Linked DNA regions of Homo sapiens: all the other regions are linked to region 1. The links come from fine-mapping of genetic effects on gene expression. A gene starts in region 1. Each other region holds a variant in brackets. All regions are shown on one strand. Distances are between the middles of the regions. Region 1 holds the start of RNF24 (ring finger protein 24). Region 2 has its middle 58 kb from the start of SMOX. Region 3 has its middle 210 kb from the start of ADRA1D. Region 4 has its middle 65 kb from the start of SMOX.

What was found. PIP is the estimated chance that this variant, and not a neighbour inherited with it, causes the effect.
Region 2: its variant is fine-mapped to the expression of RNF24 in whole blood (TOPMed, PIP above 0.99).
Region 3: its variant is fine-mapped to the expression of RNF24 in cerebral cortex (GTEx, PIP 0.96).
Region 4: its variant is fine-mapped to the expression of RNF24 in whole blood (TOPMed, PIP above 0.99). The same link has a PIP of 0.9 or more in blood mononuclear cells.

What each region holds. Positions count from the first base shown.
Region 1 is chr20:4,012,882-4,019,028 of GRCh38, forward strand. It overlaps RNF24 (ring finger protein 24), which reads right to left and starts at 2,677. Exons shown (of 6, transcript NM_001134337.3): 1 at 2,556-2,677. RefSeq lists a silencer at 2,184-2,783 and enhancers at 2,667-3,599, 3,803-4,404.
Region 2 is chr20:4,087,313-4,093,459 of GRCh38, forward strand. No RefSeq gene overlaps it. Among named protein-coding and RNA genes, the nearest start is that of SMOX, 58 kb to the right of the region's middle. The variant A/G (reference allele first, on the strand shown) is at 2,990.
Region 3 is chr20:4,459,856-4,466,002 of GRCh38, forward strand. No RefSeq gene overlaps it. Among named protein-coding and RNA genes, the nearest start is that of ADRA1D, 210 kb to the left of the region's middle. The variant T/C (reference allele first, on the strand shown) is at 3,857.
Region 4 is chr20:4,080,278-4,086,424 of GRCh38, forward strand. No RefSeq gene overlaps it. Among named protein-coding and RNA genes, the nearest start is that of SMOX, 65 kb to the right of the region's middle. RefSeq lists enhancers at 1,960-2,159, 2,073-2,574, 2,575-3,074 and a cis regulatory region at 2,444-3,141. The variant T/A (reference allele first, on the strand shown) is at 2,676.

The DNA of each region.
Region 1 (6,147 bases):
TCTAAGACTTCCCCTTACGGTTTGTTTTAAGGAGACTCCTAAAAAATGTCTTATGCAGTCAAGACAGGCAGTTTATAAATGTACTGGGTTACTTCAACATTAGTGACTTTAGTTAGTAAAGCTCTTGTTTTTTTTTTTCTGCTTCATTTTTCCTTCATAAAAGCCTTGTTTTAAATTAACTTATCTGAATTAAATTAATTGATATTAAGATTTTATTTAAATCATGCATTAAAACCAAAACATCCCCAATTGAAAAATCAACTTTCATTAATTTTTTTTTACTCTTACAAAAAAGAATTTGAACGTGGTAAGAATTTTACTAAGAATAATGTATCCTGAACTGACCATGGAAAATTTCCCCTTCAAATTAAAAGCAAATGTTTTAAACAGAGGGAATATACATAAACAGATGCTGTGGAAGACTGCTTAGTTTACATTTCATTTTCCACTGAAAACTACTAGGAATTAAAATACATGTGATTTTTAAAAATATTACAGAGAATCTTAAAGAAAACAGAACCCATACAATTATTCATATCATCCAATATAAGCGCCTCTTAATTTTTTAAAACCGCTATTTTGAATCCAAAGATCATAATAAAAATAGCTTTTTTTTCAGACGGAGTTTCGCTCTTGTTGCCCAGGCTGGAATGCAATGGCGCGATCTAGGCTCACTGCAACCTCCGCCTCCGGGAGTTCAAGCGATTCTCCTGCCTCAGCCTCCCGAGTAGCTGGAATTACAGGCGCTCGCCACCATGCCCGGCTAATTTTTTGTATTTTTTTAGTAGAGACAGGGTTTCACCATGTTGGCCAGGCTGGTCTCAAACTTCTGACCTCTGGTGATCCACCCACCTCGGCCCCCCAAAGTGCTGGGATTACAGGTGTGAGCCACCGCACCCGACCCATAATAAAAATACCTTGGAGGTGTGTTTCTTGTAAATGAGTGGCTAATTTCCCAACACCCTGTAAAAGTATATGGGTAAAAAGAAACTGAAAATCATCATGCAACCAGAGTTAACAACTATCTTGCAAAATTCATATCATTTGTTTTAAAACCAAAATAGCAAGGAAGAGCTGGTGTTATCCCAATAGCCTCTTTTTAATTGGTCTACAACAACTGCAACTCTTCATAACTTTACCAACACAACAAAGTCAGGCAGGCAGTCTGACAGAGTCAACGTTTGTGGGAACCTACAGCGCTTCCTTCTCTCTCTGGAGATGAGGACAATGAAAAAAGGTGTTCTGTTTTCCAGTAGTCCTGTAAGAGGAGCCATTGAGCTGGGCTGTACAACCAGACAACAGAACACAGGAAAATTCACATCAAAGCAAGGGCGCATGCCAGGGTAATATGCAATAAAACCCTCTGCCAAAGCATTAAGGGGAAAAAAAAGCAAGGAGGTAGAGAGAACCTGCTGGACTACCTTCTCATTAACACAGGGAGGCAGAAAGAAACAAAATCTGCCTGTATTCAGGAGCGGAGAAAACTGTGTCCTAGATATATTGGAGTATTCCTATAGACATGTTTATGAGCATTCGGACAAATTATCAATGAACTAAACCCAGAAAGCAGTGTCCTGTACGGTGGAGTATTCCTATGTAGACAGACATGAGAATCTTACCATTAACTAAGCCCAAAAAGGCAAAGTATTCTAGAAACACAGATATATGAGAATTTAGATGCACATTTCCAATGAATAAAACCCACTGGTTTTACAGTGAGAAAAAACTGTTTGAAATAACATCAGGTAAAGAATTGGGTAAAGGTGTGATGAAGTTATATCCCCTCCCCTTTTCCTCATACCCTTTTTGACAATCTCTGATTCTCTCATTTCATAGATGTCCCTTTCACTTGAATGCGCACACACACACACACACACACACACACACACACACACATCATTAGGTCTCCAGAAACAAAGGAGGGTCCTTAATTCTCCGGCCTGTGGAACCACACACGCCCCCTGCCCACAGATGGTGACTTTCATTAATGAGTAAGCCGAGGGAAGAGGTCTCCACCCCGACCACTGCCATGCACACTGTGACAACGGGGCACGAGACAAGCGCCACAAAGAAAGGGGAGGAGTGGACGGGGACCAGGAAAACACTGCCACGCCGCACCCCCCAAGGCGCGCGCCCACCGCCAACGCGGGGGCAGCGTCCTCGCCATCCTCCTCCTAGCCTCCCAGCTCATCCCAGCCGCCTCCCACGCCCGGGGACCCGATGCCAGGGCTTGGGCGAGCAGGACGTGCGGGGGCCCACGCACCTTCCCTCCGTGATCTCCAGGTGACAGCCCCGCTCCGCCCTTTGTGAGGGACTCACCCTCCAGTCCCGGGGCCGCGCCGGACCCTCCTCCGCGTCCCTCCTCAGCCTGGAGACACCGCCTCACCCCTGCACACCGCGCCCGGCCGGCCGAGGCGCCGGGAGAGTGTGTGTGTGTGGGAGGCTGGCGCGGGCCCGCGGTCTCCTCAGCATCCCGAACCCGGAGCGGCTCGGTCCCCCAAACCCCAGCCCGGGGGCGGCGGCCGCGGCGCTCCCGCCCTCGCTCGCTCACTTACTCGGGCGCGCCGGTGGCAGCGGCAGACGTGCGGGACCGTCAGCGCCCTGCGGCGGGCGGCAGGCTGCGGGCGGCGAGCGTCCGTCCGGACAGAGCGCGGCGGAGGTGGCGGCGGCTGACTGCGCCCGGCGGCCCCTCGCGAGGGGCGGGCCCGCCGGGGGAGGGGCGGGCGCCGCGCCTCTCATTCATGCAGCGGGGGCGGGGTGAGGGACCCGGATGCCCGGGCAGTTTCCCCACCCACCTCGGCGGAGGGCTCGGCGGCTTCAGAGTCTGCAGTGCGCAGGCGCGGCGCTCCCTGGCCAGGCCTGGTGCGGCCCTGGCCGCTGGCTCTGTTCCTGGTTAGAACTACGCCAGACAGGCCGGGCGAGGTGGCTCACGCCTGTAATCCCAGCACTTTGGGAGGCTGAGGCGGGCAGATCACGAGGTCAGGAGATCGAGACCATCTTGGCTAACGCGATGAAACCCCGTCTCTACTAAAAATACAAAAAATTAAATTAGCCGGGTGTGGTGGCGGGCGCCTGTAGTCCCAGCTACTTGGGAGGCTGAGGCAGGAGAATCGCCTGAACCTGGGAGGCGGAGCTTGCAGTGAGCCGAGATCGTGCCACTGCACACCAGCCTGGGCGACAGAGCGAGACTCTGTCTCAAAAAAAAAAAAAAAAAACAACTACTCCAGACAGACCTTCTCCATCGACCGTTTAGTATTTTTGCGTGCCCTACAAGCATTTTTAAAAGTGAAAGCATGGGGCCGGGCGCAGTGGCTCACGCCTGTAATCCCAACACTTTGGGAGGCCAAGGCGGGTGGATCACCTGAGGTCAGGAGTTCCAGACCAGCCTGACCAACATAGAGAAACTCTGTCTCTACTAAAAATACAAAATTAGCTGGGTGTGGTGGCTCATGCCTGTAATCCCAGCTACTCGGGAGGCTAAGGCAGGAAAATCTCTTGAACCCGGGGAGCGGAGGTTGCAGTGAGCCAAGATCGCACCATTGCACTCCAGCCTGGGTGACAGAGCAAGACTCCGTCTCACACACAAAAAAATGAAAGATTGGAATGCCACCCCTTTCCTAGCATGCAGATTGACAGTCCCCAGAGACACAAGAATGGTCACGTGGTGCCCATTGGTTTGATGGGGAGATGGTATGCACCGCACCCTCCTCCATCTGCCCCTCCTGCTGCAGCCTCTCAGCTGAGTGCTAGAACCTTGGTGATGGATGAGACCTAGACTCTGCCCAGATAGTGGAGAGAGGTGTGTGCAAGAAACAGTGCATTCCTTTATTTACATCCACTCCTCAACCTCCGGCTCCCATTCTACAGGGCAGGCAATAAATTGACCTCCGATTTTGGGAGGCTGAGCTCTTCCTGCAATACCAAGGCAAGGATCTGGGGAGTCCTCTCTTGTCTTTAGCAGGCAGTGTATTCTGCAGATACTCTCTTGTTCCCATCGCCTTGTGTCTGCCACTCCTGGGGTACGGAAGTTTCTGGAGAGGCTAGGAGCCTGCAGAGGGAATGGCTGTGAAGCTCCACAGCTGACTGTGTGTGCGCTGCAGCTCAGAGCTTGCAAAAATGATTGCCCCCTCTTCCTCAGTCTCCATGTGTCCCCCAGAAGTTCTCCTTCCTTCTCCTAATCTCTCAGGCCCCATCACATAAACCATAAACAGCTCAGTAGCTTAACTTTGGGAAGCAAAAGTCATCATGGCAAGCGCCTAGAGGCATGTTCCTTCTGCTTTGGCAAACCATTAACCACCAAGGCAGGGAGGAAGTAAAGAGGGAAACATTAGTGAATTTCTCAAGAAGTCACCTGCCACCCAATGGTCACAGTCCCCCAAAGTGAGAGAAGGGTGGAGGCATGTGCTAGGGAGACTGTGGCAAAAGGAAGGGAGTGGGAGACCCAGGCTTCCTCTAGAGCTGCCTGTGCCAGGGCTGTGCTGGGGGAACACTGCCCTCCTTGCTGTCAATCATAGCAGTTACCTGGAGGGTCTTTTCAACTTTGCTTTGCTCAAACCTCTCACTGTTCTAAATCAGCCCCCTCATCTCTCCCCTGGGCTGTTGCAGAAGTCTCAATCCATTCTCATGCAAATCGATTCTCATGGTATTCAAATCTGCCTGTGTTTCTGTCTTTTTCTTTTTCCCTGCCCCATCTGGCTCCTTGAGCCTTATTTTCCAGCCATTTACAGAACAGCACCATGGTGTTTCACCTCAGTAGTCACCAAGGTGACTGCTGTTTCCTGCTGTTCCCCTACTAGGAAAGCAATACTTACCTAGCATGCAAAAGTTGCTCTTTTCTCTGAAAATCCACAGATGCTTTTTAGGGCAGTGAAAATACTCTGTGTATGATACCATAATGGTGGATACCTGTCATGACACATTTGTCTAAATCCATAGAATGAATAATACCAGCAGCAAACTCTAATGTAAACATGGATTTTGGGTGATAATGATGTGCCAATGTAGGTCCAACAATAGTAATAAATGCTCCCGTGGGAGAATGTTTATAATGGGGGGGCTATGTATGTGTAGGGGGGAAGGGCTAGTTGGGAACTCTGCACATTCCTCTCACTTTTGTGGCAAACTTAAAACTGCTCTAAAAAAAAGTAAAGTATTTACAAAGTCATTTTTGATAAAGTATTTTTTTCTGCCCCCACTTATTGACAGACTTTCCTTGAGAATCCCCACCTGTGCCCTGTACCCACTTCCCTCTCAGCACTAGGCACCCTCCAAGGTCCCTGCTCATTTGCATATTTTCTTACCACACCAGCATGTGAGTCCTTCATCAGCAGGATCAGTATCTCCCAGGACCTAATATGTGACTGGCACATAGTGGGTCTGCTGTGGCTATTGGTGGAGGTGATGTTCCCTGGTGGGCTGGGGAGGCTCCACAGGAGAAGGAAAGGCTGAGCTCCTTTTCTTTCTTCTTCCTTATTTTGGCTTCCTTCCTCTGCCCTGCGTTTGGAAACCTGTTTTGTTTGTTTGTTTAGAAAGCTTGGCTAGTAATTCACTAGTCCAATCAGGCTGTAGGGTAGAGGATGGAGTGGCTCATTTCATGTCTTTTGTTCTTGAAAAAATTAGGGGTGAGTGGGAAAGAGAATGAGAGAATGAACGGAAGGAGGAGGGGCCGTGTCCAGTTGCTGTTTTCAGGGAGACTCATCTTATTAAAATTTTGCTGTGTCATCAACTGGCCCAACTGGTTTTTAGGGTCAAGGAGAAAGTTTTCCTTTGGGACTGGACAGGTGGAATCTGGCCTCACAGTTTCTACAACATATGGCAGGATCCTGCTCTTCTGTCCCCTGTAGCGGGTTGTCCCGTGTTCCCCTTAAGGAAGAAATCACAGTTTTTGTCCTCCTGGTGCTTCCGGCTGGAGGTTCACCTGCTAGTCCCTGATCCTCTTTGCTTAGTGATGCACATGAGTCTACTCATCCCCCCACCACTCCCAGCCCCCACTGGTCTAGGCAAAATGCAAGTGATGGGAGAGTGTGGGTGGGCAATTCTTTCTCTGGAGGGTTTAGGTGGGTACCTCAAAACAGCAGGCAGCTAGGACTTGAAGTGGTGGCTTCGCAGCTAACATTTTCCTTGTTCCACATGATGGGTAGGGGTAGG
Region 2 (6,147 bases), 74 kb after region 1:
GACTTCAGATCATCAGGCATTAATCAGATTCTCATAAGGAGCGTGCAACCTAGATCCCTCACATGCGCAGTTTGCAGTAGGGTTCGTGCTTCTATGAGAACCTAATGCTGCTGCTGATCTGACAGGAGGCGGAGCTCAGGCGGTAATGCTCACTCACTTGCAGCTCACATCCTGCTGTGTGGCCCAGTTTCTAACAGGCCATGGATCAGTACTGCGGGAGCTGGAGACCCCTGCTGCAGAGGATCTGACTCTTTTTGGCCCTGGGAGGGAGTGGTTCACAAAAGAAAAAGAAAATTACAATAGTCCCCCACCTTATTGGCAATTTTGCATTCTGCGGTTTCAGTTAGATGCTGTCAATCACAGATTGAAAATATTGAATGGAAAAATTCCAGAAATAAATAATTCATGTTTTGGCCAGATGGGGTGGCTCACACCTGTAATCCCAGTACTTTGGTAGGCTGGGACGGGCAGATCACTTGAGGTCAGGAGTTTGAGACTAGCCTGGCCAACATTGTGAAACCCCTTCTCTACTAAAATACAAAAATTAGCTGGGCATGGTGGTGTGTGCCTGTAGTCCCAGCTACTTGGGAGGCTGAGGCAGGAGAATCGCTTGAACCTGGAAGGCAGAGGTTGCAGTGAGCCAAGATTGCACCCTTGCACTCCAGCCTGGGTGACAGAGTGAGACTCAGTCTCAAAAAAAAAAAAAAAAAGAAAAAGAAAAAGAAAAAGAAAACCAAAAAACAAAATGAGCAACTCCCATTTTAAATTGCCTGCCATGCTGAGTAGAGTGAATCATCCCTCTGTCCAGCACGTCCATGCTGCATATTCTTCCCGCTCATTAGTCACTTGGTAGCTGTCTTGGCTGTCAGATCAACTGCTGAGGTATCGCAGTGCTTATGTTCAGGTAACCCTTACTTCATTTAATAACGACCCCTGGATGCAAAAGTGGTGATGCTTAACATCATCACAACATAATTATTATTAACAATAATAACTGAGAATAAAATAGAACAGTTGTTATAATTGTTCTATTTTATTATCAGTTATTATTGTTAACCTCTTAACTGTGCTTAATTTATGCATTATACTTTATGGTGGATATGTACATATAGAAAAATCCATAGTATGTATAGGGTTTGGTACTATCTGCGGTTTCAGGCATCCACTGGGGGTCTTGAATGTATCCCCTGCAAATAAGGGGGGGGACTAGCGTTTCTGTCTTCACCAGGCCTAGATGTGTCTTGCCTGCCGAGGAAAGATGTATAGTTAAGATGTGACAATTATCTGTCAGTTGGTGGAGTTTCACCCACTTAGTTGGTCTTCTTACTGTATTTTGAGATATCTTTATTTACAGGAGGCAAAATAGAGGTCCTGGGTCAGTCCTCAGCCCTCCACCCCCAGCCTTTATGCCTAGGAGACTTTGAGTTGATGGGGAAAGATGGTTTCTGCCCTTGGGGGACCCACACAGGGTCCTTAGTATAGAGCCTGGCGCTCCACAGGGACCCGGTATTGAATATGGGATGGAGAGGAGCAAAGAGATCCTGCCAGGGAGGTTGTAGGAAGATCAATGGGTCACAGAAGCTACAGAAGGGCACACAGTAAGGCCGTGAGAGTGGGTAAAAAGGAGTGTGGGAGCTCTCACCTGCTCTGTGCTGGGATGTGGGTACTGGTCTCCTGGGAGTGAGCAGTTGGGCCCTCACCCAGTTGGAGGGCCCAACCACAACCACGGCAAATCCCAAAGGCCAGGAACAGGGACTAATGTGGGGTCCAGGGATAAAAGCAGATTTCTGAGATACAGAAAGCCCAGGGTCTGGCCTAAGGGGCAGCTGATATGCCCAAGAGCAAGTTCAAGGGCAGAGCAAGTTCGAGTGTACTGCAGACAGCCTTGGGACAGGGACATCCAATTTCATGGGCCAAGGAGAACAGTGGAAAGTCCAGGTAGTCAGGAGCCCTTGAAAGTCTAGAGGGTGGTGGGCTTGGTTGGGATGTGGATGGACATATATATATATGTATATACATATATACACACACACCATGGTGTGTGTCTGTGTGTGTATATATATATATGTGTATATATATATACACACACATACCTGATATGTTATACCTGACATATGTTATATACATACATACATATACATATATACACACACATATATATATCTGATGGTTTTATATATATAGGGAGGTGTGTGTTTGTGTGTGTGTGTGTATATATATATGTGTATATATATGTGTATATATATGTGTATATATATGTATATATATGTGTATATATATGTGTGTGTATATATGTATATATGTGTGTATATATGTATATATGTGTATATATGTATATATATGTGTATATATATGTGTATATATATGTATATATATGTGTGTATATATATGTATATATATGTGTGTATATATATGTGTATATATATGTGTGTGTGTGTGTGTGTGTGTGTATATATATATATATATATATATATCAGTTTGCCCTTGCTGGATAACAAACCACCCCAGAACTTACTGGCTTAATGCATTAACCATTTATTATTTCTCTAGGCTTTTGCAATCAGATGCTGGGTTGGCTGGAAGCTGGCTGGTATAGCGTGGCCATGCAGCAGGCTAGTCTAGGCTTAGTCACATAGTGATTGCAGGGTTTCAGGAAAACAAATGAAAACATGCAAGATCTTATAAGGTCTTTACTTGGAACTGACAGACTGTCACTTCTGCCAAACTCTTTTGGTCAAACAACTCTCAAAGCCAAGCCTCACTTGAAAGAGTTTGGGAAAAAGTTCTGATTCTTTTGTTTGTTTGCTTTAGAGACAGGGTCTTGCTCTGTCACCCAGACTGGAGTGCGGTGGCGTAATCATAGCTCACTACAGCCTCGAACTCCTGGGCTCAAGCAGTCCTCGCAGCTCAGCCTCCCGAGTAGCTGGGACTACAGATGTGAGCCACAGCACCTGGCAAAGTTCTGCTTCTTGATGAGAGATGTTACTAA[A/G]TCATATTGCAAAGGGAGGGGTGGAGAATTGCGGCCATTTTTGCAATCAATCTAACGCAACACCCACTTGTGAAAGACAGAAACCTGGGTGACATCCTGAGTCCTTCCTCCCACTTCTCCGACATCCGTTACCTCACCAAGCCAATTTGATTTTCACCCCCCAAAACGCCATTCAACTTTTCCTATTGCCACCACCCCAGTCCAAGGAACTTGTCTACCTGGTCTACTCACATTTGCTGTAGCTGTGCTCTACTATCGTGGCCACATAGCAGCCTATAGGACTTCTTCAAAGTACAAGCCAGGTCCCATCATTTCTCCCTGCCCATACCCTTCAAAGACTCTGTATTAGTCCATTCGCAGTTGCAAGCAGAAGAAACAGGCTCTGATTATGGCAAAAAAAAACACAAAAAAACAAAAAACCTAATGGAAGGGTATTGATTAGCTCACAGAATATCTTGAAGACTGGACCCAGAAATCACGCAGGCACCAAAGGTAGCAGCTGGATAGCCAAGACCACGATGAAAACCATGCTGCTGGAACATCTGGGGGACACTGTGGCCATCACCACCATGTAGCCAGGCCCCAGGATGCTGCTGCTGCCACCACTGCCAGGATGAATAGTTCACTGTCCTTGGCTTCTTGTATCACTCACTACAGGCTCAAAGAGCTGGGTGGAAGCATCTGATTGGCTAAGCCTCCAGTTTCCATTTCATTTCTGTGCTGACTCGGTCAGTGGAGGATTCCTAGGAATTCCCAGGATGAGGAAAGATGCTGGAAATTCAGTTGTTCTCAACCTTTACTGTGTTTTGCAGGTTCCCAAAGCCACTGGGGGCTGGGTGGGTATCTTCTCTGGCACATGGCATTTCTGCTGTAATAAAGGTTCTTTTAGTTAAAAGTCACAAACCCCTTATGGTGTAAGTGATAAGGTGGTGGGGATGGGACCTTTGTTTTTGCAAAGCTGTAAAGAGGAAAAAGTTAGTCTGGGCCCCTGAAGGAAAAGACATGAATCATTAAGTGAAGAGCATGGCTGAATCCCTGCGTCATCAGGGAGAAACCAGAGGAGGCAAATGTGTAAGAAAGATTCCCCTGGGCCTGGGAAGGGGAGCCGACAGAGGATCCCAGCTGCAGGAGGTCGGGCCTCAGGACCCCTTAGAACTTCATGGACTGTCCCAGCCAATGTGAAAACCCTGGGCCATGTCTGTTCTTACCCGGGAAAGAGGAGGAGAGAGGCTGGCTGGGGTCAGCAGTAAACCGATAGGGGACTGAAATGGACACTGTGGGTGCCTCGCCCAGACCCCTTTGCAGGATAGGGTGCATCTGCGGCTGCTGTGCCTGTTGGGTCACAGGGGCCTTCTCTCTTCTCTAGGGAATTGCCCTTTGCCCAGTGGGAGTCACGCCCACTCCCACAGCCTGCAGCCTGTGGATGACTGACATATAAGCCCTGCTGCCTTGCAACCAAGTGAATCTTATCTGAGGTGCCGCGACCCAGTGTCCTTGTGGGGTCAGCCAAGGCTAGATACATTTCTGCCCAGCAGTGGGGGTGACAGCGGCCTCTCCTACCATGCTGTGAAGGCGAGGGCAAGGGAAGCAGCTGCCAGGCTCCCGGGGCCTCCCTTATCTCAGCCCCTACCCACCCACCCAAGTCCAGAATCGGCCTCACACCTGCCCTGGATTCCACTTCCTCCCTGCTCTTGGGAGCCAGAGAAAAGATGTCCCAGGCCCGTTGACTCTCTTTCGCCCTCTCGTGGGCCCGCTGAGAACGGTGGTGATTCCCATAGAATTTTTCCCTAGGCTGCTTGTCCAAAAGCGGCCCGTTGGGACTTAGGAAAGGAGGGAGAAGGGATCAGGGTGATAATTCGTAGCTGGTGAGATTGAAGGTAGTTTTCCAAGCAAAGGGTTTGATGGTTTTTTTTTTTTTTTTTTTTGAGAGAGCGTCTTGCCCTGTTGCCCAGGTTGGAGTGCAGTGGTGCAATCATGGCTCACTGCAGCCTCAAACTCCTGGGCTCAAGCGATTCTCCCAAGTAGCTGGGACCAGAGGTGCGTGCCACCATGCCCAGCTAATTTTTAAATTTTTCGCAGAGACGGGGTCTCCCTGGGTTTGGTGGCTTTACTGGGGGGATGTTTGGTAGTCTTCCTTAGGAAACCTTGGCATCATGAAGGCTAGGCCAGGAAGCTGGTCTGAAGGGGCTGCTTGATGCTGTGACTGATTTCTGTGGCCTTGAGCCAGCCATCATGTCTTTGTCAAGTAGAGAGAATCAGACAAGGTCCTGTAGCCTGGAGGTAATGGGTGAACTTAAAGTGTAATTACACATTCAAGAGAGCTTCACCATCTCAAATCACACTGATCTTGCCGCCTATTAAACTTCCACCAGACTTCTCATTTTAGCTATGCAATCTTGTATTTGATTATCTATTTTCTTTCCTGTATATACTCCAGCCTCTTCCTATGGGTCTTTCTGCTTCCACACTGCACATTGCAACCAGAACTCACTCACTCAACACCATTTGGCTATGACACTAAAAAGCTTTCAAGAATTTCCCACTGCACTTACAGTAAAGTCCAAATTATGTTCCATGGCCCCCAAAGACCTGCACGGGCAAGGTGTGGTGGCTCACGCCTGTAACCCCAGCACTTTGGGAGGCCAAGGTGGTTGGTCTCCTGCCTCAGCCTCCCGAGTAGCTGGGATTACAGGCATGTGCCACCCTGCCTTGCTAATTTTTTGTGCTTTTAGTAGAGACAGGGTTTCACCATGTTGGCCAGGCTGGTCTCGAACTCTTGACCTCAAGTGATCTGCCTGCCTCGGCCTCCCAAAGTGGTGGGATTACAGGAGTGAGCCACCACGCCTGGCCTTGTGTGTCTTCTTGACTGGGCCATGGGGTGCCCAGGTATTTGATCAAACATTGTTCTGGGTATTTCTGCGAGAGTGCTTTTGGATGAGATTAACACTTAAATTGTTAGACCAAGTAAAGCAGATTGCTTTCCCTAATGTGAGCCCTCCTCCAATCAATTGAAAGCCTAAATTGAACAAAAAGGCTGACCCTCTCTTGAGTAAGAAAGAATTCCTCCTGCCTGATTGCTTTCAAACTGGGTCATCAGCTTTTTTCTTGCCTTTGGACGTGAACAGAAACATCAGCTCTTCCTGGGCCTTGAAACTGCT
Region 3 (6,147 bases), 450 kb after region 1:
ACCAATGTAAATCTTATGCGTGTGGATTTATGTATTTGCCTGTAACTTCTGTCTCCCTAAAATGCAAAAAATCAAGTTGTAACCAAACCACCAAGGCCAAATGTTCTCAAGATGTTCTGAGATGAAGTCACAGATCACGGTCCTCACATTTGGCTTGGAATAAGCCTCTTTAAATATTTTACAGAGTTTGACCCTTTTTTGTAGACATTGAGCATCTTTTCATATTTTAATAGGCCACCTTTTATTTCTTAATCTGTAAATTGTCTTCATTTTTTGAAATCAAATTTTTATTGGCTTGTTGCATTATTCTTTCTTAATTTCCAGTAGCTTTTTCTATATTAAGATTAGGCATTTCTCTATGAGTTGCAATTTGGGGAGCATTTTTTCATTTGTCTTTTGACTTTTTATGTGGTATTTTGGTCATGTGACAGCTTTGTATTATTAATTTAACACAATTTATCAAAGCTTTATTTTATAACTGTGAACTTTTGCATTATTTTTAGACAATCTTTCCTACTCTAATGTAAAATAACCTATCTTTTCTTCTTAATTATTTTATTTTATTTTTTACATTTATATTATTTTGGAACGTGTAGTAGAGATATGGATCCAGCTTTATCTTTCATCACATGGTTCCTCAATTGTTCCAATACACTTTTGGAAAAAAAAATCTTTATATATTTGAGATGCCACCTTTATCATATACTAAATTCCCATGTGTATCTGGATTCATTTCAAGGCTTATATTTCTATTCCATGTATCCATCTTTCTATCCATGAACCAGTAGCACATCATTGTAGTTAATTGAAGTTTGACCATACTTTTAATTCCTGGTAGAGCCAGACCTTTTCAGAATCTTCTTGGCTCCTTTTGCTTATTTTTCCAAATCAACTTTAGAACTAGTTTGTCTAGTTCTAGGGAAAAAATACCCGGTAAGCTGTTAGTATTTTTAAAAGAATCATATTAATTAAATATTAAATTAATTCTAAAATAATTAAATTAATAAAATTAAATTAATATAAATTTAATATGATTCCAATAAACTAATGAGGGGAAATGACTCATTAGATGTTGAATATTCCTATGCAAGGACATAGTATATCATTCCAAAAAGGTGACAATTATCAAAAAGACATAATACTTTGAATTTCTATGTACCTAAGTACCAAATGATACAGTTTGATAAAGCAAAAGTACAGGAGCTACAAAGAGAAAGAAACAGGAACACACTAACAATAGGGGATTTTAATTTAACATTCTTGGTCCAAGAAAGATCAAGTGGACAAAAATTAACTAAGGAAAATAAGCAACGAGGTAGATATAGGTGGAACTCTGCATCCTAATAACAATAAGTGCATCTTCTTGACAAAAGCACATGATCATTGATGATAACTGACCCCATATTAGCCACCAGAAAAGCTCAATGAATTTGAAGAAGCAAGTATAATACAGGCAATGATCTCCAATCACATCATCACATTGCAATGAAACTAGAAATTAATAACATCAGAAAAAAACTGGGAATTAAAATAAAACCCTTATTTTTGCTATTTAAATTGCAGTCTGTAAACAGCAGCATCTGTTTCTCTTGTGAGCTTGTTAGTAATGCAGAATCCTGGGTGCCCCAGGTCTTAGTTGGCGTCTACATTTTATAAGATACCCAGATAATTTGCAAGTACATTTATGTTTACTCATTGTTTCCAGAAAACAATGAGAAATAAAATACACATCAGAACTGTGAGACATAAGCAGAGCAGAGCTCAGAAAAATTTTAGTCTTAAATACTTATATCAACAAAATTAAAACTAAGTAAATCAATGCATTAAGTATCTAACTTTATTTTATTTTATTTTATTTTATTTTATTTATTTATTTATTTTGGGACGGAGTTTCGCTCTTGTTGCCCAGGCTGGAGTGCAATGGCGCGATCTTGGCTCACCGCAACCTCTGCCTCCCAGGTTCAAGCGATTCTCCTGCCTCAGCCTCCCTAGTAGCTGGGATTACAGGTGTGGGCCACCACACCTGGCTTATTTTGTATTTTTAGTAGAGACAGGGTTTCTCCATGTTGGTCAGGCTGGTCGCAAACTCCCGACTCAGATGATCCGCCCGCCTTGGCCTGCCAAAGTGCTAGGATTACAGGCATGAGCCACCGTGCCCGGCCAAGTATCTAACTTTAAAAAATAGGGAGAAAACACAAAATAAACTAAAAGAAGAAGGAAGAATTTTATAGTGATGGAAGCAAAAATCAATGCATTAGAAGAATTGTAGAATTAACAAATTAGGATCTATTTCTCTTAAAAAATGAATGAAATAGATTGACAAGCAGTAAATTTAATCAAGCAAAAGGGAGGAAGCACAAACAATAAGAAAAGGCAAAAGAAAATAACCTCAACAACTTAATAATTTTAAAAAATAAGGCTATTTGTACAATTCTATACAAGTAGGTTTTCAATATGCAAATGTGAATGAAATTCTAAAACTTGGATGTAATAAATAATTTTCTTGGAAGATATAATTTACTAAAATTAATTCCAGAAGAAACACAATGATTACATGAAACAAAACTATATGGACAAGTTTTCATTAGAGAAATAAAGTATTTAAAGAATAAGCCTCCATCAACTCATAGAACATATATATCAGCCCAGATAGTTTCACATAAGAATTATTACTAAGCTTCCATAGGATAGGTTATTACAATGCTATTTGAACTTTTCCAGGACATATAAAAAGTTGCAAAATTTTTTATATAAGGTGGATAACGTTGACACCAACATGTAACAAAAATTGTACAAAAAAACCTACATGTTAATCTCACTTGCAAATATACATATTACAGTTGTAAATATAACAACAGCAATTAGATTCAAACAGCTCATTAAAAGACTAGTAGCAGGACCACAAAGTTTCCATTTCAGAAATGCCAGGATAGATTAGTATTAGGAAAGGTATTCATTACAAGTCAGCATATGATATGGTTTCACTTTGTGTCCCCACCCAAATCTCATCTCCATTTGTAATCCCCAGGTATTGAGGGAGGGACCTGGTGGGAGGTGATTGAATCATGGCAACAGTTTCCCCCATGCTGTTCTCTTGATAGTGAGGAAGTTCTCATGAGAGCTGATGTTTTGAAAGTGTTTGGAAGTTCCCCCTTGCCCTAGTCTCTCCTGCTGCCGTGTAAGACTTGTCTTGCTTCCCCTTCTGCCATGATTGCAAGTTTCCTGAGGCCTCCCCAGCCATGTGGAACTGTGACTCAATTAAGCCTCTTTCCTTTATAAATTACCCAGTCTTGGGTATTTTTTATAGCAGTGTGAAAACAGACTAATACAACATATTAATAGATTTTAGGAGAAAATTTTTAACATATTGATGCTGAAAAGGCATTTGACCCATTCTTAAAACACTTTTTAAAAAGAAATTTGTAAACAGTAGAATTAGGAACACAGTAAGGATGCTCATTATTACCTTTTCCATTTAATATTGTGCTGGAAGTATTTGCCACTTTTATTGGACAAAAGCATGATACTTCATTTATAAACACTGGGAAAAAGAAGGTTAAATTCTCCCTATTTGTGGATAATATGGCCTGGAAAATCTAAAAGAATCGACTGAAAATCTTTACAAACAAAAAGAGACTGCAGCAAATAAATGGGCTATAAAAATTAATACGTAGGAATCTATAGCTTTCATATATAACAACAGCAATGAGTTGGAAAATGTAGTGGCATAGATGCTTTTGTTTTTATTAGCAACAGAAAATATAAATATCTAAATATAAACTTCACAAGAATCATGTAAACTTACATGAGGAAAAGTTTAAAACACTCCTGAAACACACCAAGAGCGGACATGGAG[T/C]CTTCATTCTAACAATCTGTGTATTGGTTTGAATAATTCAATACCCAATGTCTTTAATTATCTAACCATGGTTAAGGCACTCCCTTGCCAAAGATTTTAGGGATGGATGTGTGACCCGTTGCTGGCCATTGAGATGTGAGGCAATATCTGCTGGCATAGGGCAAAAGTCTCTCACCCTTAAATGGAACCCCAAGGAAGATGCAGACTCTTCCTTTCTGCAGATCTTATCATGTCTGGATATGATGCCTGAAACTGCCACAGTTACTTTGCAACCATGCCCAGGGCCAGCACGGTCAGGATGCTAAGTGGAGACCTGGTAGGAACTGGGCTTCTTGGTGACATCCTCGAGGCATTGATTATGTGCTGCTTGGAGCCACCAACCTGTGGACTTCCTGATAACATAAGGTAATATATTTCCTTAATGTTTCAATTAATTTCAAGCAGATTTTTCTGTTTCTTGCTGCCAAAGCATTCTAGCTGGCCCAATCTGTCTATTCCATCCCCAGAACCAGTTTTAATTGCCATTGCTTTATAATGTTTCAGCCTACAATCACCTTCTTTGGGGTGAGAGAATAATTCTTTAACTTTCTTAATTTCTTCCTTAAGTGATTTAACCATGTGATTCCAATTGAGTCAATTCTAGTCATCTAAATTTCTTAATACAATTTCCATCTTAAATGATTTTCAAAATAAAAGCACTTAATTATACTGTAATTTTTAAAAACTTTTATATAAGTTCTAGCCATTTTTTTCTTTCCTTTTTTCATTTTGATTATGGCATTTTAAAATTAGATTTTCCAGCAGCTGGGCCATTTTACTGATTCTTTTCAAAGACGTTCTCTGAGATTCACTATCTATTCATGCCATTGTGCGTTTTCCTGCTGCTAATTTTACTTTTTGTTTTTATATTTTAATATATTTATTTCTGCTTCCTTTGTTCCTTTTTTCTTCACTTTTTAGTTGAAATTATTTTCTCTTGCTTTTACTTTTAAAAATGTAACATGCATTTAATACTACAATTTATTGAGAACAACTTTACGCATATTCCATAATCTTAAATGTGAATTATTCTGATTCTCATTATTTTTCAATTAGCTGTTTTCAAATCCCTTTATTTCCTCATTAATCAGAAATTTATTCAAAAGAGTATTCATAAAATTTGTTTAATCTTTTGTTGTTGTTTCCAGTTGTTATACTTTCCTTTGAGAACATAGATTGCATATATTCATCTTTCTGACTTATGATTTTTGTTATTATTTTTCTCATGCCTGACTACATTTTTCAATACTTTTTAATATCCTGTGGCTAATTAGCAGGAAACTGTATTTTGCAACGCAAATACAATATGCTTTATAAGATAAATAATAACTGCATAAGACAAAGTTTGAAATAGTTATTAATTATAGTTTACTAATTATATTGTTTCAATCATTCATGTCATCATTTTTATATACTTTATGATGACAAATATGAAAGTTTGAGGAATTAGTGTTGGGAAATTCTAAGGGTAGAACCCATAGTTAGGCTTAGGCCTAAGAGTAGTGGAGTGGCTGTGCATGACCACAGATTTGTTGTGATGGGAATTTGCAGGAGGGAGGAAGCTGCTTGTGAATGGCAAAAAAACACAAAGTACTATAACTACTGTGTTTAACGGCCCTGCTGGGAGAACAGAGGAGCTGCTCAGTAACTGTTTGCTCCATGAAATAATAAATTTTTTCCCCCTCAAACTGTTTGGTTGAAAAATGGGCTATGCCAAAGGCAGTGAAGTTAATTATCCCCAGGAGAGGCAGGCTAGGTAAGAAAAGATGGCCCTGGGGACCATGTTGGATTGCCCTGAGTTGCTGGATGTTCCAGGAGGAGGGAAGAGATGATTTAGCTTGAGCTTTTCAAACATGTTTTGTTTGTTTGTTTTGCTTCAAGGATCCAGAAAGTGGGATTTTTTTTTAAATCCCAGAAGTTATTTTACGGGGATTGGTGTGCATTGGACAAACAGCATGAAGAACCAGGAGCAGACACTGGCCCTGTCCATAGCACTTAGGCCTTACTACTTCACAGAGCCCCTTCCCACTCTTGACTGCCAGTATCTCTATTCTGTGTGAGGGTTCTCTCTAAATTCCCTGAAGGCCACTCTACCCACACTCATCGTAGGGCAGCTGCAAGGGCTGGTATCAACTCTTCTGGGAGCAGACCTCAACCATGGTCTGCCCAGAACTACTGTACAGCTATCCTAGATCTTCTGCTTCTTGGGTGAGAAAACTCTAAGGCATGTGCTCTACACTTGCAATCAGAGG
Region 4 (6,147 bases), 67 kb after region 1:
CGAAGTCTCACTCTTGTCGCCCAGGCTGGAGAGCAATGGTGCGATCTCGGCTCACTGCAACCTCTGCCTCCCGGGTTCAAGTGATTCTCCTGCCTCAGCCTCCCAGGTAGCTGGGATTACAGGTGTGCACCACTACGCCCAACTCATTTTTGTAATTTTAGTAGAGACGGGGTTTCACCATGTTGGCCAGGATGGTCTTGAAGTCCTGACCTCAGGTGATCCGCCCGCGTTGGCATCCCAAAGTACATTTTTTACTTTAACTGTCAAACATAATTTAGAAAAATCAAGAGGCTCATGCCTGTAATCCCAACACTGAGAGGCCGAGGCAGGAGGACTGCTTGAGCCTAAGAGTTCAAGACCAGTCTGGGTAATATAGTGAGACCCCATCACTGTATCTAAAGAAGAGGCCTGGCACGGTGGCTCATGCCTGTAATCCCAGCACTTTGGGAGGCCGAGGCAGGTGGATCATGAGGTCAAGAGATCGAGACCATGCTGGCCAACGTGGTGAAATCCCGACTCTACTAAAAATACAAAAATTAGCTGGGCCTGGTGGCGCGTGCCTGTAGTCCCAGCTACTTGGGAGGCTGAGGCAGGAGAATCGCTCGAACTCGGGAGGCCAAGATCACGCCATTGCACTTCAGCCTGGCGACAGGGCAAGACTCCATCTAAAAAAAAAAAAAAAAAAGAAAGGAAGAAAGAAAGAAAGAAAACTCAAGAGGATAAGGAAAGTCTGTTGTATTTATCCATATTTTTGTGCTTTTCATTGTTCTTTCTTCTTTACTGTTGTTCTAAGATCCTTCATTCAGCCAGGTGTGGTGGCTCACGCCTGTAATCCCAGCACTTTGGGAGGTCGAGGCTGGTGGATCATGAGGTCAGGAGTTCGAGCCCAGCCTTGCCAATATGGTGAAATCCCGTCTCTACTAAAAATACAAAAAATTTAGCCGGGCATGGTGGCGTGTGCCTGTAGTCCCAGCTACTCAGGAGGCTGAGACAGAAGAATCGCTTGAATCTGGGAGGCAGATGTTGCAGTGAGCTGAGATTGCACCACTGCACTCCAGCCTGGTGACAGAACGAGACTCTGTCTCAACAAAAAAAAAAAAAAAGAAAAAAGAAAAATTCCTTTGTTCATCATTTCCTTTCTGTTTAGACAACTTCTTTTTAGTCATTCCTAAATGGCAGGTGCTGACAACAAATTCTCCTGGTTCTCCTAATCTGAGAACATCTGGATTCCCGTCATTCTTGAATAATCTTTTTACTGGATATAGAATTCTGGGTTGAGAGTTCCTTTTTTTCTTTTCAGCACTAGAAAAGAAATGTGCCACTCTCTTCTGGACTTTAGGGTTTCTGATAAGAAATCTGACGTCTTTCCAATTATTTTTCTCCTGTAGGCAATGCGTCATTTCTCTCTGCTTTCAAGACTTTTTTTTTTTTTTTTGGCTTTAGTTTTTAGAAGTTTGGCCAAGATATGTTTTGATTTGAACTTCTTGGGGTTTATCCTGTTTGAGTTTCACTTAGCTTCCTGAATCTGTCGGTTCATGTCTTTTGTCAAATTTGGGACATTTTTAGCCATTATTTCTTCAAATACTTTTTCAAATGTAGATCCTTTCACCTCTCCACCTGGGTCTCTAGTGACACAAATGTTAGATCTTTTGTTACAGCCTCACAAGTCTCTTGGGTTCTGTTCATTTTTTTCTCTACTATTTTCTCTCTGTTGCTTGGATTGGGTAATCTTATTGTTCTATTTTCAAGTTCACTAATTCTTTATGCTGTCATCTCTATTTTGCTGTTCAATCCATCCATTGAATTTTAAATTTTGTTGATGTATATTTTGGTTCTAAAATTTCCATTTAGTTCTTTTTTTTTTTTTGAGAAGGAGTCTTGGTCTGTCGCCCAGGCTGGAGTGCAGTGGCGCAAACATCTCGGCTCACTGCAAGCTCCACCTCCTGGGTTTAAGGGATTCTTCTGTCTCAGCCTCTTGAGTACCTGGGATTAGAGGCAGGCACCCCCACGCCTGGCTAATTTTTGTATTTTTAGTAGAGATGGGGTTTCCACCATGTTGGCCAGGCTGGTCTTGAGCCCCTGACCTCAAATGATCCACCCGTCTCAGCCTCCCAAAGTGTTGGGATTACAGGCATGAGCCACTGTGCCTGGCCTCCATTTGGTTCTTTTTTATGTCTCCTGTTTCTTTGCTGAGACCCACGACTTTCTGTTCCTTTGCTGAGACTTTCTATTTTTGTGTGTTTTTTTCAAGGGTTTGTAGTTGCTCATTGAAGCATTTTCATGATGGCTGCTTTGAAATTCTTGTCAGACAATTCTAATATCCATGTCACCTAGGCACTGGTGTCTGTTGATTATTTTTCCTAATTCAATTTGAGGTTTTCTTGGTTCTTGGTTTGATGAGTCATTTTCAACGGAAACCTCAACATTTTGAGTTTCTGTTGTGAGACCTTGGAGCTTCTTTAAATCTGATTTAGCAGAGGCCTCCTCTGACTTGCTCTAGGGAAAGGGGCTGCTACTTTGTTCCTGTCAGGTGAGGTGAAGGTCCAGGTTCCCCACTCTGCCTCTGTTGACAGTCAGGGTCAGGGAAGGAGCGCCTCATCACTGTTGGGCAGTGGGTAGGGTTCAGGCTTCCTACTAGGTCTCCATCGACAACACCCTGGCTGGGAGGGGCAGAG[T/A]TCCCTTGTCACTGCTTCACATGTGACCTCCACTGATACTGTGGGGAAGCAGGATAGCCTTGTTACCGTTTGGCAGTTGCGAAAGTCCTGAGTCTCCACCAGGCTTCCTCTGAGACCACTGGAGAGGGGGCGGGGGAGAGGAGGGGGGCGGGGGAGAGGAGGGGGGCGGGGGAGAGGAGGGGGGCGGGGGAGAGGAGGAGGGCGGGGGAGAGGAGGAGGGCGGGGGAGAGGAGGAGGGGTGCTCCGTTACCACCAGCTGGGAATGAAAGTCCAGGCTTCCCATGTGGTCTCCACTGACACCCCTGGGAAGGGAGACCTCATTGCTGCCCAGCGGGATAAAAGTCCTGGCTTCCCACCCAGCTTTTTCTGACACTAGCCTGGCCAGGGGGAAGGAGATTGAAACCTCATGATAGCCTGAAGCCGTGAAGTCCAGCCTGAGCCTAGCCATGAAGCCGAGGCTCCCCACTCAGCCTTTGATGGTGCGGGTGGGGGTGGGGTCTTACATTTTTTCCTATGGTATTTGGCTGGCACAGAACGATCATTGTCTAAAAGTTTTCTGTTTTGCTAGGCCACTCCATCTTGGTCCTTTGGCAAGCAGAGCAGGATTTTCTTGGGCTTTTGTGGGGCATCTATTCCCATTGTTGTTTCCAGAATGCTGGCTTCTTTGCACACTGTCTGGGATATATGAGCCAAAAAGATAAACCCAGAGAACTCATTGCTGTGTCATTCCCTAGGCCCCAAAGTCCCTAGCTGGTTTGCCTTCTTCTCTCTGCTTTCAGATGCTTGTTTTATAGGCAGTATCTAGGGTTTTTAGCCATATTTACTGGAAAGAATAGGAAAAAACACATCTACTCCATATTTCTGAGAGTTGAGGTGTCATAGGTTGATTTAACCATGCCACTGATGCCTTTAGCTCTATCTGCCATGCAGCAGGTATCTTCTAGGTCCTTCATGGGGACCAGGCACTAGTTGAGGCCAAAGAGGAGACAAAGACTGACTCTGACTTCAGGAGCTCACAGTTTTGCGGGAACACAGGACTTTGCCCCAGGTAAGCTTGGATAGTGAAGAATAAGATGCTATAGAGGAAGGAATTACTTGAATGGCCTGGTTGGGGAGAGCTTCCTGGGAGGGTGAAAGTGGAGATAGAGTATTTTGGTAAATTTTAGAGAGGAGCTGCAGGAAGTACAGGTGCCAGGAGAGGAGCAGAGGTCCAGAGGGGTAAGTAGGGATGGCAGGAGGCAGCAGGGAGAGAGCTTGCCTGGTTGGGCCCTCAGGTGAAGCGAATGAGCCTGAAGGACACCATGCACAGGGGCTTGACAGTAGTATCTTCAGAACAGGAATCTGGGGATCAACTGTGACATGGCAATTGTGTGGGTGAGCAAAGATGGTGGCCTGGCCAGTGCAGTGGCTATGGGGTGGAGAGGAGAGAACAGGATCAAGAGGCATTTAGAAGGTAGAACTGATGGGTGTCTGGATTGATCTGGGGAAGAAAGAGAGAGGAATTAGATATGAGGCTGAGATTTCCAGCTGAGGTCTCTGGGGAAGAATGGTGCCATAAACACGCAGAGAGAGAAGACAGAGAGGGGAACCAATCTTTGGAATAAGAGGATGAGATTTTGGCCACTGGTACCCAGAGGCCCTTCTTCAGAGAATGATGCAATGAGACCGAGGTGAATATTTTCTCTGAGCACTGAAGTTTCAGATCAAATAAGCAACAGATTTCTGCTCTGTGAAAGCCCTGTAGTCGAAAGGCAGTACATTGCAAATTTCAAAGAATAAGGCACTATCCTCTACTTTTGAGAGAAAGAAATGGAAGTCACACGCCAAAAAGTTGAAGTCTCTCCTAGACTCAGATGTCCTCAGTCTTCATCACTCTCTCTGGGTCTGATGGTCAGGAGGCCTAATGCTCAAGCTGTAAGGCGAGGCTCCTTAGAACCACTTGAGTCACCTGTCCGAAGCTGAATTGCATGATGGCTTCATTCAGAGCCACCCAAATCATTCTGGCCAATCACGGGCAACTGTGGATGGTTCAATGGCACCTTCCTTTCAGAGAATAGAAGTCCCAGGAGGGCAGGGGTCTTTGTCTGATTTGTTCACTGAAGAATCCCAGGTGTCTAATAGGCTGCTGGTATATAGTAGATGCTAAATAAATACTGGTTAAATAAATGAAGGATTGCAATGGGTTTGGGGGAAGTCTGAGGCCAGGGTTAGGGGTCACACCAAGGTCAGGTTTTTAAAGTATAGGATCCCATTTTTGGTACTGAAACGTGGTTGGGGTATTTAGGGGTCTGCCTATTGGGACAAAGGTTTCTTGGAGGACATCGCACACCTCTCAACCTGAGGACTCCTTATGGGCTCAGGGGAGCAGCTACTGGCTGAGATTTTTAAAGCAGGGTCTCAGTCAGTGAAAGCCTGGCTTGCTTTCCCTGAAGAGAGCTATGCGCGTGCCTGGCCATGGGGCTCACAGCTGCCCCCTGGTGGTCAGCCACAGCCCCCTGCCAACCCTTGGGCGTGGTATTTTTCCAGCCTTAAGTCAGGCAGCAACGGCACATCCTAACGCAGGGTCCGTCTGGTTCCCGGGCCCCAGGTGGCGAGGGAACAGGAATGAGGGCTCTCCGGCACTCTCCGCTTTGCCCTTGGCCTCCTTTTTTCATCAGGGAAGACTCAGGGGAGGGCCTGCGCTGTGCCTCTCTTCAGCATCTGTGAAGATTCTGCCAGCTCCCCAGCCCCGTGCTCTCCGAGGGCATTTTTGTGCACGCAGGGCAGATTCCGGATTCCAAGAACATCAGTCATGGAATGACCTCTCTCCGGCCCCTTGGTGTGACCTCACTGTCTTGCCTCCTCCACCTGCACGTTCTTTGCCAGCCTGTAGGTCCTATCGTGGGGACTCCTCCCTGACCTCTGCCAATTTGAAGTGGGAACTCAGATGAGTGCCTCTGACTTTTTTTTTTTTTTTTTTTGAGACGGAGTCTCGCTCTGTCGCCCAGGCTGGAGTGCAGTGGCGCGATCTCGGCTCACTGCAAGCTCCGCCTCCTGGGTTCACGCCATTCTCCTGCCTCAGTCTCCCGAGTAGCTGGGACTACAGGCGCCCGCCACCACGCCCGGCTAATTTTTTTGTATTTTTAGTAGATACAGGGTTTCACCGTGTTAACCAGGATGGTTTTGATCTCCTGACCTCGTGATCCGCCCGCCTCGGCCTCCCAAAGTGCTGGGATTACAGGCGTGAGCCACCGCGCCCGACCGAGTGCCTCTGACTCTCACAAGGGCTCGTGTCTTCAGTTCCAGGCAGGCCCTGGAAGGGCATGGGGCAACATCTGGGGCGCCCCCACGGCTGCCTCTCTCTCCCCCCACGGCCCTGTGCCCCTCAGCAAAGCTTCTTCAGAACAGCTCTTTGGACAGCAGCTCTCAGGGCATCTGTAGCTGGTGCCAGCCTACACCCCCCATGCAGCTATCATGGACAGCGAGGGCATAG